Homo sapiens: one gene and its partner. The protein of the gene in region 1 interacts with the protein of each later gene in a pairwise test. Each region holds a gene or a part of one and is shown on either strand. Other genes may lie near its edges.

Region 1 (7,022 bases):
GTGCCACTGCACTCCAGCCTGGGTGACAGAGGGAGACTCCATCTCAAAAAAAAAAAAAAGTAAACCCTTTATATGTGTGTATATGTTTCCTTATGTTGGCAATAGCCCACACAAGGTAGTAGAAGTATGCAAGTAAATTTAACACTGGTTAGTCAGGGGTAGAATTAAGAGGAGACAAAGGGAGATTATGCAGTTTGTCTTTATAACCCTCTACCTCATTTAACCTAGTATAATTAAGCATGTCATATTTGTAACTTTTTCAATTTAAAAAAAGAAAGACGAAAGGCAAGGGATGCTTACCCTGGATCTTCCTATGGCTAGACGATTATCTCCAGGTATTAAGCAGCAAGATATGTATTAAAATCACATATAGGCCGGGCACGGTGGCTCACACCTTTAATCCCGGCACTTTGGGAGGCTGATGTGGGCAGATCAACTGAGGTCAGGAGTTGGAGACCAGCCTGGCCAACATGGTGAAACCCTGTTTCTACTAAAAATAAAAAATTAGCCAGGTGTGGAGGCAGGTGCCTGTAATCCCAGCTACTTGGGAAGCTGAGACAGAGGATTGCTTGAACCCAGGAGGCAGAGGTTGCAGTGAGCCGAGGTCACACCACTCCAACCTGCACTTCAACGTGGGTGACAGGGTGAGACTGTCTCGAAAAAAAAAGAAAAAGAAAAAAAATAAATACAATAATATATGGAGGGGTCCTACAGCATCTGCATCTGCTCCTTGGTGAGATGGAACATGGCTGGAGTCCGGGAGAGTGGAGGGAGGAGCAGTTAAGAACAAGCCTCTGGGTTGGGCAGAGCTGCATTTTAATCCCAGCTCTCTGCCACTGACTGAGCTGTGGGACTTGGGCCAGTTATTTAACTGCTCTGTGCCTCAGTTTCCCTATCTTTATAATGGGAGTAATTAGCCTCTATCACTGGGTTATCAGGAGAGTAAAATGAGATCATGCATGCAGGATGCTTAGCACAATGCCTGGCATACAGTGTTCAAGAAAGGATAGTCGTTATCATTATTAATATTATTTACAGTAGGTGCATCTCAGTTGTGTAGGGAGTGGGGAATGGTGGTTATAAAAATCTAAAGGAGGTGACAGTGACCTAAATTTAGGCTCCCATACTTCCAGGCATATATTGATGTGTTCCTGCACCATCCACCTAAGAACTGATTTTATTCTTGAGGGTATTATAGCTAGCTAAAATAAAAGACTACATTTCCCAGGCTCCCTTGCAGCTAGGGGCAGGGGAAGTCTGGGATGGGACTTTGCTTTCGGAAGATGCCCTTCTGCTCTTTCTTTCCCTCCACCCTCCTGCTGTCTGGGTCCTAGAGTTGATGGCTGGGGTCCTGGCGGCAATCTGGGACCCTGCAGCACCTGGAGGGAAGAAGCCACGTCCCCAGGACAGTGGCGCAGAAACACAGGAGTCTGAGTCCCTGATGACCCTGCAGTGGCCGTGCCAGCCCCAGCCCACCTCCCTCTGCACTTATATGTGAGAGAGAAATAAACCTCTATCTTGCCTAAGACTTTGTTTAGGTTTTCTGTAATGTGAAGGCAAGCCCAGCCCTAACTAATTGAGTTCTCACAGAACGACTACAAATTCCAAAGCCCATGGCTAGGAGGTGGCGCAGGGCGTGGCCTGGGGAGGGGCTGCTGCCTGCTCCCAAGCGAGCCTGGGCCTGGGCACTTACTCATCGCCAATGTAGAGCTTGGGCCAGACCTCGTTGACGTGGGTGTACTGGGGACTGCCCTTCCAGAAGAGCCGCTCCAGCTCAAAGGCTCCAGGGGTGCAGTAGTCCTCCTCCTCCCCTTCCTCCTCCATCTTCGGCGACAGCCTCTTGGCAGATGAGTAGGCATTCTTGAGGCTTGTCTTCACTTCTCCAGATGTCATTTTAGAGCCAAGGGATTTTCTCTCCTTTCTGCAGCTGGTTATGAGAGAGAAGCAGGATGGGGGTTAGCAGGGGACACTGAGGCAGGGAATAGGCTTTACAAAAAGAGGTGGGAATAAGCTTATCTTAAAATTTGGAAAGAGTTTCCCCAACCTGCTATGCCCCGGCTTCCTCTTCCCAGGCCACACAGGTAAACAAGGAAGGCCATGATGGCAGTTAAATGACACTTCCCCAATGTTCCAATCTTTCTAGAGAAGGAGAGCTGGGGTCCTTGGACGTGGGCCAAGGCGGGCTCTGGAGCTAAGAAATCCTGCAAGCAGCCAGTTCCTTCCCACCTTTCTTTAGACTTTACTCCTTTGGTTCCTACTTTTTCCTTTATCTGACTGAAACCTACTGGTTTGGGCCATTTGGGACCCAAAATAGGAAGGCCCAGAAGATTCCTGACATTCCAGGCCTGTGGCCCTCTCAGTGTCTGCAGGGAGCCGTCAGCCAGTGGAAAGAGTACATCGCCAAGGCCATACCTGCCCGGGCCTGGGTCTGGGCCACACGCACATCAGCAGGACTTCAGAAGCCTTGAGAGGGGAGGAAACCTGGCTGCATGAGGGTTAACCTGTCAGAAGAGCTGAAGGCAATGCTCACACTCTCACACTGGGAGCCTGGCCATCACTGTGTTAACTTACCAAGGGGATTGGAAGAGATGCCCCAAGATAGAAAGCTGTGCCTCGAGACTGAAATGTGCATTTGGAGAGCTTGTTAGGCTCTGCCAGTGGAATGTGGGAGAGGACTTTCCATTGTCCCCAAGGAGAGGAATTTGCAGTGGAATTGGACATTGATTGTTTCCTGAGCTGAGTAAATGATGCACCTATGGTCAGCCTGGGAAAGGAGACTGGAGAGAAGGAGGAAAAGGTGGGAAGACTGAGAACCATGGAGGTGAATGCTATTTGTTTATTTATTTGACAAATACTTATATAACACCTATTGTGTGCCAGACACTATTCCAAGTGCTTGATGATTGTAAGCCCATTTAATCTTAACAACACTGAGATAGGGTTATCCTAATACCCTATCATTAGCCCCATTTTACAGATAAGGAGGATCATGAATTGAGGCTGTCTGTAGCACAGGGTCTTAGTGTCAGGGGGAGGGAGATGGGAGGTGCAGTGTGAGGAGGGGCAGGCCGGGGATGCAGAGAATGTAGGAAAGGGTTCATGGCTTCAAAGACCATTAGGAACATGTCAAAGGGACTCAGAATACAACTTGAAGAAGCTTCCACTTATCAAAACTGGAACAATTTGAACATGAAAAATAAAAATAATTCCAGTGGATCAAAACACATCAAACACTTAGGTCATAATAATACTGAAGGCCAGGCGCGGTGGCTCATGCCTGTAATCCCAGCACTTTGGGAGGCCGAGGCGGGCAGATCACCTGAGGTCAGGAGTTCAAGACCAGACTGCCTAACATGGCGAAACCCCATCTCTACTAAAAATACAAAAAATTAGCCGGGTGTAGTGGCGGGTGCCTGTAATCCCAGCTACTTGGGAGGCTGAGGCAGGAGAATCGCTTGAACCTAGGAGGCAGAGGTTGCAGTGAGCTGAGATCGCACCACTGCACTCCAGCCTGGGCAACAAGAGTGAAACTCCATCTCAAAATAATAATAATAATACTGAAAACAGTCCGGGAGCAGTGGCTTATGCCTGTAATCCCAGCACTCTGGGAGGCTGAGGTGGGCAGATTGCATGAGCCCAGGAGTTCAAGACCAGCCTGAGCAACATGACAAAACCCATCTCTACAAAAAAATGCAAAAATTAGCTGGGTGTGGTGGTGCATGCCTGTAGTCCCAGCTACTCAGGAGGCTGAGGCTGAGGTGGGAGGACCACTGGAGCCCAGGAGGCTGAGGCTATAGTGAGCCAAGATCATATCACTGCTCTCCTGGGCAACACAGTGAGACCTTATAAAAAAAAAAAAAAAAACCCAAAACTTATTATGCACGGTTGGAAGATGTTTGGGAACCAGCTCCTTATTTTGAAGATGGATAGATAAAGGAGAAGAATCTGCATGTATTGCTTCTCTCTTTTACAAACTATATACTACTGGGTTGATACGGGAAATGTTCTTTTATAGAAGTATTCCAGATAATGAATAAAGAAGGAAGCACCATTTTACACCACCTGATGAGTTGCTGCATCCAGAGACTGAGCATAAACTGCCAGCCACGTATGAATAAGAAGAGATGGTCAGACATCATATGCCTTCGAATAGAAGAGCACACCACCATGGCGGGAATCATCTCACCAAAGAGGTCTATATCTATCAGCCGACTTGCTGGAGATTCCGAGGACAGTTACGTTATACCACAGGGCCTTATCTTTTAGAAAAACATACTGAAATATTTGCTTCAAAAATAATATAGTTGGAAAATATAAATAATATAATGTTGGGGCAAGGTATTGATGTAGGTGTGAATGAGATGGGCTGGCTATGAGTGATGGTGATTGGGGCTGGATGATGGTTATAAGGTAGTTGTTGTTTCTCTTTTTTCCTTTTTTAAAATAGAGATGAGGTCTCGCTATGTTGGCCAAGCTGGTCTCGAACTCCTGAGCTCAAGTGATCCTCCCACCTCAGCTTCCCAAAGTGTTGGGATTACAGGTGTGAGCCATCACACCTGGCCAGTTGCTGTTTCTCTTCAGGTGTGTTTGAAATTCTCCATGATAGAAATTTAAAAGGAAAGGGTTGAGACCACTGCTTTGGGGAATTGGATTCTCCCAAGTCCATAGCAGATGACTTAAAGGATCACTAGCTAGCCATGAGTGTCTGTAGGGATTGTGGGAAGCCAGGGTTTGTGACTTCCTCCAACAACTTCCTGCTTCCTGGTGAAGTGTGGAGAGGGCAATAGGCAGCAAAGGGGACCCTCCTGTGAAGTCTCTCAAAGTGTGGTCTGAAGACCACGTCTGTCAGAGTCACCTGGCACTAACCAAAAATACAGATATCCGGGCTGCACCCTCGTAGGGGCGCAGGCATCTGTATCTCAATGAGCTCCGAAGTGAGTCTGACGCTTAGTAAAGTTTGATAATAATTGTCTGAGATGTGGCTAGAGAGCCAGGGTGCTGCGGAGTCAAGGGAAAGGTAGTGAGGGTGCTCATTCAAAATGCCTCCCGCTGTCCCAGTGGGGTGGGAGGCCCGGTCTTTGGCCCAGAATGCAGCTGCAGGCTGGGAGGAGAGAGGACCTTGCTTCGGGGCTCCTGAGTGTGGCTTCTCTCTGTAGCCTTGGTGTCTGGCACGTAAGAGGTGCTCAGGAGATATGGGTTGGATGAGGAAGTGGCTTAGTGAATGAATGGAATGAGTGAATGAGTGACTGAGGGGTGAAGGAATGATTAAGGGCTGTGAGGCCTGTGCAAGGGGCTCAGCAAGAGCTGCTAAGGCAGGACTGAGCCTCCAGGCTGATTTGGAGGAGGGAGAAGGTGAGGGGACTGCAGGCGCAGGGTGGGCTGCCCTCCCCCACGGGTGGTCATTCAGGCCCAAACTCTATTCTGGGGCCTGCCTGCTGTGTTTCCAGTCAGGAAGGAAGAAATTATTTTAAGGAGTGGCCAGAAATCTTTCTCACAGAAACGAGCCCAGACCTTTCAGTCCCCTAAGAGCATACGTAGTTATAGCCCTCCTTGCTTCAGGCCCACAGTGTCTAAAGGTGTGAAGCTCAGCTCGTCCATGGCACCCACTCTTCTTGTTCGAAGTGAGTAGAAGCTGGGCACCATACACCTAAAGGTGGTTTAGGCCATCTTGAACCCTGCCTGCGGTTAATGGAAGCTTCAGAAGAGGTGATTTTCGGGAGACGCTAGAGTCAATTCCGTTCTGAAACCTCCGTCTGCCTCCTTTGATCACTGAAGCTGACCTCACCCTTGGTGAGGCCATTCTTCCTTCATTACACTGTGGAGGGAACCATCCCCGTCTCCATCTCTGTGCTGAAAGCCTCGGCTGGATTTCCAGACAAAGGAGGAAGTGGTGCGGTCTACCCCGAGGAGCTTGGCACGCAGAGTGAGCCCTGGGATCTATTATCCTCCAGCACGCAGATTTGATGGGGAAAGAGAACAAAGTGTGGAACCGTCCAGAAACCACAGACCTGTAATCTTTCCAAATCCTGAAGGCGGCCTGTGTGCACCCTCTCTGCATGGCTCCCAACTCTCTAATTCTCAGAGAGGCCAGGAGCATCTGTTTCCCAGATCACAGCCAACATGGAAGGGAAGACAAATCTGTTCTGTTTGGTTTCCATAGATTCGACCCAGAGATTAACTGCCAAGGTCTCAATGACACACACAATATCAATCACAGGCTAAATGTCATAATGAGAGCTGGGCAGGCTGTCAAGAGAGGCCCCCAGGTTCCTGTTACAGCTTCATATTTAAAGATTTGGTCCCAGGAAATCAAATGCTGTCTCCGAGACGACTTGGCCTACATGCAATGGCAGCCTGTCTCCTCCTTAAAAGGTGACAAACTCAGGCTCCTTCAGGGAGGGGCCAGGCAGATAACATAGAGGAAGGAAGTAGGTTGGGTGTTAAAAAGTAAACAAACAAAAACCTGGCTGTTGGCCTCAGGCAAGAGACATTAGGGAGTGGTGGGGAGTGTGGCACATCAGGGAGCATATGCCTCCATTAAGGGGGCAGCAGCTTGCTGTCCCATGTGGGAATGCAAGCCCAGATTTTCTGGTATTTTTATGATCCTCATAGATTGTTGTGAGAAATCTATTGATTTTTAAATGTAAGCCCCTGTAATCGATGCTATTCTTGCCCTGTTACAAGGATAGCATCTACTACAGGTGCCTACAGGTGCCTCCTCAGCTCAAGTCACTGCAGCAGAAGTGGACAGTTCTTTATATACATAAAAGCCTTCCTACCTCAGATGCCTGTTTTCCTGCTTGAGGGCATTTTCTAGTCCTTGTGCTGGTCAGGCCTGCAGTATGTGGAGTTAACATCCCCCAGAAGTTGTCACCAATTAGAGGCAGGAGTTGGTGGATAAACATCCCCACTTCCTCAACCCTGAGTGGACCACTTTTGAAATATGTCCTGCACAGTCTCCTGGAGGCTGGCCCGTGTGTTGGAGCTCCAGTTGCCCAGAGTGGGACTCTGCTCGCTTACAC
Region 2 (8,022 bases), on another chromosome or scaffold:
GCTTTATTTTACATAGGGTGGTCTGGGAAGTTTTCTCTGATTAAGGTGACATCGGAAAAATAAAAGTAGTTAAGCATGTCACAGATATGTCTAGGGGAAAAAGAGTTACAGGTGCATGTCACTGCCTTCTTGGGGGAAATCATATAGTTTTCCCTCAGTATCCATGGTTTCAGGACTCCCTGCAGATAACAAAATCCACAGATGCTCAAGTCTCTTATATAACATGATGCAGGGAGGGGGAAGAGGTGGAGGAAAAATAAAATCATGGCATATTACCTGTGCACATCCTCTTGCATACTTTAAATCTCGTGATTACTTATAATACCTAATACAATGTAAATAGTTGCTATACTGTACTGTTTAGGGAATGACAAGAAAAAAGTCTGTACATGTTCAGTACAGACGTTCTCTCCTTATATTTTCAATTCACAGTGGGCTGAATCCATGGATGTGGAACCCAGAGATGAAGAAGGCCAACTGTGTAGATAATAGTTACAATCAGGTGACCTGTTCACAACAGATAGAATTTTATGTAATCTGAGCCATTCAATGTTATGAATAAATATTTTTGGAATGATGAACCCTGTGGACCACTGGGAACTATATGCAACTTGTGCCAGTCAGATTAGTGTATTGAAACTTATAGTTAAAAAAACAAAATGCAACATCAAGTAAATAAAAGTAGCCATCTACATTACTGATCAAATGTAGAAGGCCACTAATAACATTTAACTTATTGTAACCTTGTACATTTTAAAAGACAAAATGATCTTGTATGTGGGAAGATAAATGAAGGAGTCAGAGTAAAAATGTGTCAATTTATCTCTCTTTCTCCCAATACTGGGAAGGGAGTCCTTTTAATGCAGAATATCCCAGATCATATAGTTGAGGGAGACATTCTCAAGCACACACTAGCTGTCCTGGTTATGAAGGAACTATTCATTTGATTACAAAACAAAAAGACTCTGGTCCATCACAACTTCCTCTAGTATACTGGTCATGCATTAGGTAAAAGATGAACCAGTATAATGCCTACATCTCTCTTACCTTTTTTCTAAATGCATCATAAAACTGCCTTCAGAGAATAAACAGCATTTAAAAGTCAGCAACCATAACAAAATTTTTAACTTGTAGGATTGGAAAGAATTGTAGTAATTCGAATACCTCAAATATCTCACTAATAAAACTATTAAAATCATCCAATGTATCACTATTTTCTGCTATTTTACTGTTCATTAATTTTACAAGCTTAAAACAGTAAGTCTTGAGAAAACTGAACAACAGCAAAGCATCTATTTTTGTATGTTCATGTTATGAAAGCTATTTGTCTTTCATTACCAAATCAAGTATCTGTCAAAATAACAGGAATAAAGATTTACGTGTTTGTTCCCAGAACTCCACGTCATGCAAACTAAGTAAATCCTCTCTCCACATGTACATTTCCCTAAAAATTAGAAACATACCAATTTGAAAACACCAATAATCTTGTGAAAGTATTTTAAGTGGAAAGTGATGAAATATGCTAATACTTAACAAATATCTCATTATGATAAACTTTTGTCAATTATTTTATTGAGCAGAAAGTTAATGGTTACACGTACCATAACAGTAGATTCTTAGAGGATTCCAATTTCCTGTTTAGTATTTAAGTGACATCATAAAATTCTCAATATATGATATTTACTGATAATGACATTTGAATTGTCACTTCTCCACCAATAAGTCTTCCAAAAAGCACAAGACTATTATTATTATTCCAATTGTCTGTTTTAGTAGTACACTTTATCTTACTTCTTAGCTTCTTTGAACTATTTTTTCTTTACAATTCATCCACTTAATATTCTTGCGATAGAAATAATTTTCAAAATAAAAGTGAGACAAAAAGGATAAAAAGTCATACACTCTAATTCAAATTTCAACATTTATAAAAATCCTTCTCAAGAACAACTGTGAAATATCACAAATCTGTATATTATTCAAACAAAGGAAAATCTCTGGTTTATAACCCGTTTTTTGACATTATACAAATTAAGTAATCAGGCTCACACTAAACTAAGCGTCTGTCAAAAAGAATATGATCTTTGAATTATATTGCTGGGCCAGAACCACATAACAGCAATAACAATAAGTGAACAACCTACAAAGTTTAACACCAAATTAACACAGGCATGAATAATTTTGTTACCTTTCTTCCAAGAACGCAAAGAACAAATACTCAGTTTTTTAAAAAAGGGATTTAACCTATATACGACGTACAGACTGCGGTTAGTCTTGCGTTAAGTCCCCAAAGCCAAACGACCACGTTGGCACAATTTAAGGCGGAAAAAAAAAATTTCCCGAGAATAACAGCCAGTGTTTCCTAATTCCAAAAAGCCCTGGCCCTGCCTCTCTGCATTTTTTTGTAGGCCTGGAACACAACCGTCTTAAGTAAATCCACCAGCCACCAGCCACTCAAGCAGCCTGGCCCGGGGAAGCAGCGACAGGGGCCTAAGGAAATTGTGTGTGTTAGGCCCAGGCTGAGGCGGCGTTAGCAGGAACAGTGATGGTGGACGATACTCACTCCGGCGGGAAGAGGCGCAGTTCGTCGATCTTGCCTAGGAAACCGAAGAGAGTCCGCATCTGCTCAGAGCTAGCGCTCGGGGAGACATTAGTCACCTGGATTACCTCGGTGCCGCCGCCTCCGCCGCCACCACCACCTCCGCCACCGGGCCCGCCGCTGGGGCCCGGACCTGCAGTGCTGGGGACGACGGTAGTGTTGCTCATGGCGCTGCTCGGGTTCTCGCTCCTGCTTTAACACATCAAACACACAACAAACAGTGAGAAGGAGGGGGAAGAGGAACCGGATTGCGGGAGAGAGGAGGGTGTCCGATGCTACAGCCTCTGCTACTGCTGCCGATGCCGCCGCCGCCGCCGCCGTTTCTCCGCCCCGCCGCACGCCGCGGGGGAGGGGATGAGAGCGCGCGAGCTCGAGACCACGAGAAAACAAACGGCCGCCCCACCTCGCCTCCAACCACGACACTAGCGGGCCCGAGCTCCCACAATGCTTTGCGGCGCAGGGCGCGTCAGCGTCGGCTCCACCCCGCGCAGGCCCAGCAGCCGTCGCCTGCAGCCCGAGAAATGAGAGGCACCGGGGTCTAGAGAAAGGTGTTATCCACCTTCGTCTCTCGTTTTATTCTTCTTTTTCTTCTCTCTTTTTTTTTTGGAAGAGCGAAGAGGCACGTATAAACTTTTTTTTTAAAAAAAGCATTCATCCTCCTGCAAAAGTCACTTCAGCAACTCTTCTTATTAAATACTGCTCACGATGTCTTTATATACTGATAATCATCTACAGAGCTATCCGATTACTAATGATATTTAAACCCAAGCTAAGATGCCACCCCACCACCACCAGTATAAAATGTCCCGAAATTTTCAATGTACATGAATTTTGGTAACATTAAATCTGTAACTAATTTGTTTTGTCACTAAAACTTTCAGAAAAGATATATTTTAATATTACACTTATTAATAAGCGTTTTGTACATTCATTCACAATGGATGACTTTTTTTTTTGAGACAGAGTCGCCCTGTCGCCCAGGCTGGAGTGCAGTGGCACCATCTTGGCTCGCTGCAACCTCCACTTCCCCTGTTCAAGCCATTCTCCTACCTAGGCCTCGGGAGTAGCTGGGATTACAGGCGCCTGCCACGACGCCAGGCTAAGTTTTGTATTTTTAGTAGACATGGGGTTTCACCATGTTGGCCAGGCTGGTCTCCAACTCCTGACCTCTGGTGATCCACCCGCCTTGGCCTCCCAAAGTTCTGGGATTACAGGCGCGTGAGCCACTGCACCCAGCCAATTCCACAATAGCTGACTTTGGAAACACAGTTTATAGTACTTAAATATATTCAAGTATATATTTCTAAAGAAAATACTGCAATTTCTCAAGAAAAACTTGTTTCACATACATATTCTTGCTTAAAATAATTTTGAAGCTTTTGACTATTAAAAAAATCCTTGCTTTTGTTTTCAACCTCATCTGAACTATTCTCTCAACTGCATCCAGTGTGTAGTCCAGTGACTTGTAGTGCCCCAAACATGACAAAAACCATAATGTCTCTGTGCCGATACACAAGTTATTAATAACATCACTCATCTTATCTGTCATCTTCTGTAGAGCATTCCTTCCCTCACTGCTATGACTTCTGCAAGCTGTTAGGGCTTCCTCTTTTCTGCTAAGTAACAGAAGATACATGTATTTATTATTGACATGTATCACTCAAAGTTGTGAGCTTCCTGGGTCAGTCCAGAACCTGGCACAATGTCTGTCACACAGTCAGTCCCAATGAATGTGCTGGACACACGCACAAATATACCTTAATGACAATGGCATTTAAGACAGTTCACTAAATAATTCACTTGACCTTGAATGTTTTTAGAGGTAAAAGTTTTAGATGTTTTGGAGGTAAAAACAAACAAACAAACTTGAAGCCTTACAGAGTATCTACATTAGTGAATACCTCTTGGCACAATGCAGTCAAGATGCAATATGTGAGAGATTAGAGCACAAGGTTATTGAGATTTGGGTGTAGAGCCAACTGGCTAAGTGACTTTCACTAGTGCTTATACAGAAAATGGATGGGTTGACTGAATGTGAGCCTCAGCAAAATTACAAATTATGGCCTTCATAGAAATCAACTAACATTAGCTAGAGCCAAGACTTTTCAGAATTTTAAAGAAAAGCATATAGCTGTCCCTCAGTATCTGTGGGGGATTGGTTCCAGGACCCTCCCACAAATACCAGAACCAGAGGATGCTCAAATCCCCTATGTAAAATGGTGTTGTGTAATAAAGCATTTGATCTGTATCCATGGGTTCCATGTATGTGGATTCAACCAACCTGGGACTGAAAATATTTGGAAAAAAATTGATGGTCTAAACATGTACAGACTTTTTATTTCTTGTCTAACAACTATTTACACAGCATTTACATTGTATTATTATTAGTATAGAGATGATTTAAAATATTTGGGAGGATGTGCACAGATTATATACAAACGCTATCCTATTTTACATAAAGAATTTGAGCATCTGTGTATTTTGATATCCTCTGGGGTCCTGGTATCAATTCCCCATGAATACTCACCTCAGGACTGGTACAACTGTATTTGCATATAATGTAAGCACATACCCTCATACTCTTGAGTAACCCTTATCTAAAATGCTTGGGACCATAAGTGTTTTGGATTTTGGATTTTTAAAAAAGATTTTGGAATATCTGCATTATATTCACTGATTTAGCATCCCTAATCCTAACATTTAAAATCTGAAATGCTCCAATGAGCATTTACCTTGTGCCAGTTAGTGCTCAGAAAGTTTCAGATTTTGGAGCATTTTGGATTTTGGTTTGGATTAGGGATACTCAACTTTAATACTGAATACAATGTAAATGCTATGTAAATAGCTTTTATACTGTATTTCTAAAACCTTTTATTTTTAATGTCATTATTTTTTATTTTTTGAATATTTTTGATGGGGGTTGGTTAAACCCAAGTATGTGGAACACATGGTTATGGAGGCTGATTGTATAACTAACTGCACGTCACTCATAAATAAGTATCTGTGAATACAAAGAATGGTAATTAATTTTCTCATTTTGAATCAGACATATGTAACTGCCAGTTACAGATACTTAATAGTTTAACATTTATTGTGAGTGCCTACTATATGCCACGCATGCTAAAATATTTGATGATAAAAGGACAAATAACAGAAGGTCAGGGTTCATGCCTTTTTCTTTTTTTCCTGAAATGTTAACACTTATTTATTCTCTGTGATGGGTACACATAAATCTTTTATATGACTCTACATTTTTCTGTATGTTTGACACATTTCATAATTAAAACTACAAATTCAAACCAAAGAAAAAGGTAGTTGTAATAAAATCCTTTAAACCACCAGAAGCCAATTTATGTACAATAACTTACTGAACAAATAGATGATACTTTGCTATAGAGAAACTAAGTGGCAAAAAGTTTATGCAACTGAAGAGGATTTTAAAATATTTTATTTTCACATCATTTAGCAGCTAACAACAACAACAAAAAATTACTGAATTTAAAGTTAGAAGGCTGGCTTAAAATACCAGCCCTGTTGGCCAGGTACAGTGGCTCATGCCTGTAATCCCAGCACTTTGGGAGGCCAAGGCGGGCGGATCACGAGGTCAGGAGATCAAGACCATCCTGGCTAACATGGTGAAACCCCATCTCTACTGAAAATACAAAAACAAAATTAGCTGGGTGTGGTAGCAGACGCCTGTAGTGCCAGCTACTCGGGAGGCTGAGGCGGGAGAATGGCGTGAACCGAGATCGCGTCCCTGCACTCCAGCCTGGGCAACAGAGCAAGACTCCGTCTCAAAAAACAAAAAACAAAAAACACACACAAAAAACAAACAAAAAAAACCCACCCCTGTCATCAAGCATGTGATTTGAGAAAATTTCACTTCACTTCTAAGAACCTGTGTCAGTTTTTCAGTCAAATGAAGAGTTGAATCATAATTTTGAAGATTCTTGTAGGTCTAATAGATTAAATAATTATGTTAATGTCTGTTTTACATAGGAATAAGACATATACCTGAAGACGAATGACAGATATATTAAAGCAAATAAATATAACCAATCTATGACAGTTTTAAATCACTTCAGATTTATTTAGGCTCACAATTAAACAAGACTATAGAAAATATAGAATCTGGAGACAGGATTCATGCCTGTTTTATTCACTGTATCTACAATATCATTGAGAGGCAGTCAAAAAACTCACAAATTTCTTCAAATATTATGTACGTAAATCTGTTCCAAGGATTTTCCCAGCTGCTGGAAATAGAGTAGGGAAAAGGAAGTGAATGTCCCTGATAACATAAAACTTCAGGTCTAGTATGGCAGACTTTCAATAAAAAAACAACACAGCCAGGCGCGGTGGCTCATGTCTGTAATCCAAGTACTTCGGCAGGCCAAGGCAGGCGGAACACCTGAGGTCGGGAGTTGAGACCAACCTGACCAACATGGAGAAACCCTGCCTCTACTAAAAATACAAAATTAGCCGAGCATGGTGGCACATGCCTGTAATCCCAGCTACTTGGAAGGCTGAGGCAGGAGAATTGCTTGAACCTGGGAGGCGGAGGTTGCAGTGAGCTGAGATTGCACCACTGCACTCCAGCCTGGGCAACAAGAGCGAAACGCCATCTCAAAAAAACAAAAAACAAAAAACAACAACAAAAAAAACACAAAAAACCCCACAAAGATGAAAGGACTAATGTGTTGTGATGAAATGAAATAGGACAGGGGATGGCGGAAAAAGTGTTATCTGCTGAGACCTTACTAAAAGGAAGAAGCAAGACATTTGAATTTCTGGAGGAAGAGTATTCCAGACAGAGGAAATAACAAATTAGAAAGACCCTAAGGATAAGAACAAGTTTGAAGCTTTCAAGAAAAGAAGTCCACTCTTTGTGAAGTGAATGCATTCCAGTTTATACTTCAGAGAGAGACTTAGAAATCTTGTCATGTGGAAAGCAAAGTGAAGGAAGTATGCACAGAGAAGGTTCAATTGGCTCATCTTTGGATGTAAGTAAGGGAAAGCTTCTAGTTATATATAAATGATCATTATTATCAATTTTATTATGAGTTAATGCAACTGGGTATGGTGGCTCATCCCTGTAATCCCAGCAGTTTGGGAGGCAGAGGTGGGTGGATTGCTTGAGCCCAGTTGTTTGAGACCAGCCTGGCAACGCAAAGAAACCCCATCTCTACAAAAAATACAAAAAAGTTAGCTGGGTGTAGTGGTGTGCACCTGTGGTCCCAATTACTTGGGAGGCTGAAGTGGAGGATCACCTGAGCCTGGGAGGTCAAAGCTGCAGTGAGCTGAGATCGTGACACTGTACTCTAGTCTGGGTGACAGAGTGAGACCTTATCTCAAAAAAAAAAAAAAAAGTTAAATAACCTATCATTTGGCCTATAAAGTCACATTATAGAAAAGTGCATGATTTC

The links. Proteins that work in one complex are often made in the same cells at the same time.
Region 2: the proteins of DUSP29 (region 1) and SRSF11 interact in binary tests that used the Homo sapiens proteins (3 or more experiments, as listed by UniProt).

The regions. Positions count from the first base shown.
Region 1 is NC_000010.11:75,056,622-75,063,643, forward strand, and holds part of DUSP29 (dual specificity phosphatase 29), read right to left. Parts: intron 1,928-7,022; 5' UTR 1,894-1,927; coding exon 1,694-1,893; intron 1-1,693. UniProt on the Homo sapiens protein: Dual specificity phosphatase able to dephosphorylate phosphotyrosine, phosphoserine and phosphothreonine residues within the same substrate, with a preference for phosphotyrosine as a substrate. Involved in the modulation of intracellular signaling cascades.
Region 2 is NC_000001.11:70,216,378-70,224,399, reverse strand, and holds the start of SRSF11 (serine/arginine-rich splicing factor 11), read right to left. Parts: upstream 3,021-8,022; 5' UTR 2,764-3,020; coding exon 2,561-2,763; exon of another isoform or gene 1,635-2,560; coding exon of another isoform or gene 1,602-1,634; intron 1-1,601. UniProt on the Homo sapiens protein: May function in pre-mRNA splicing.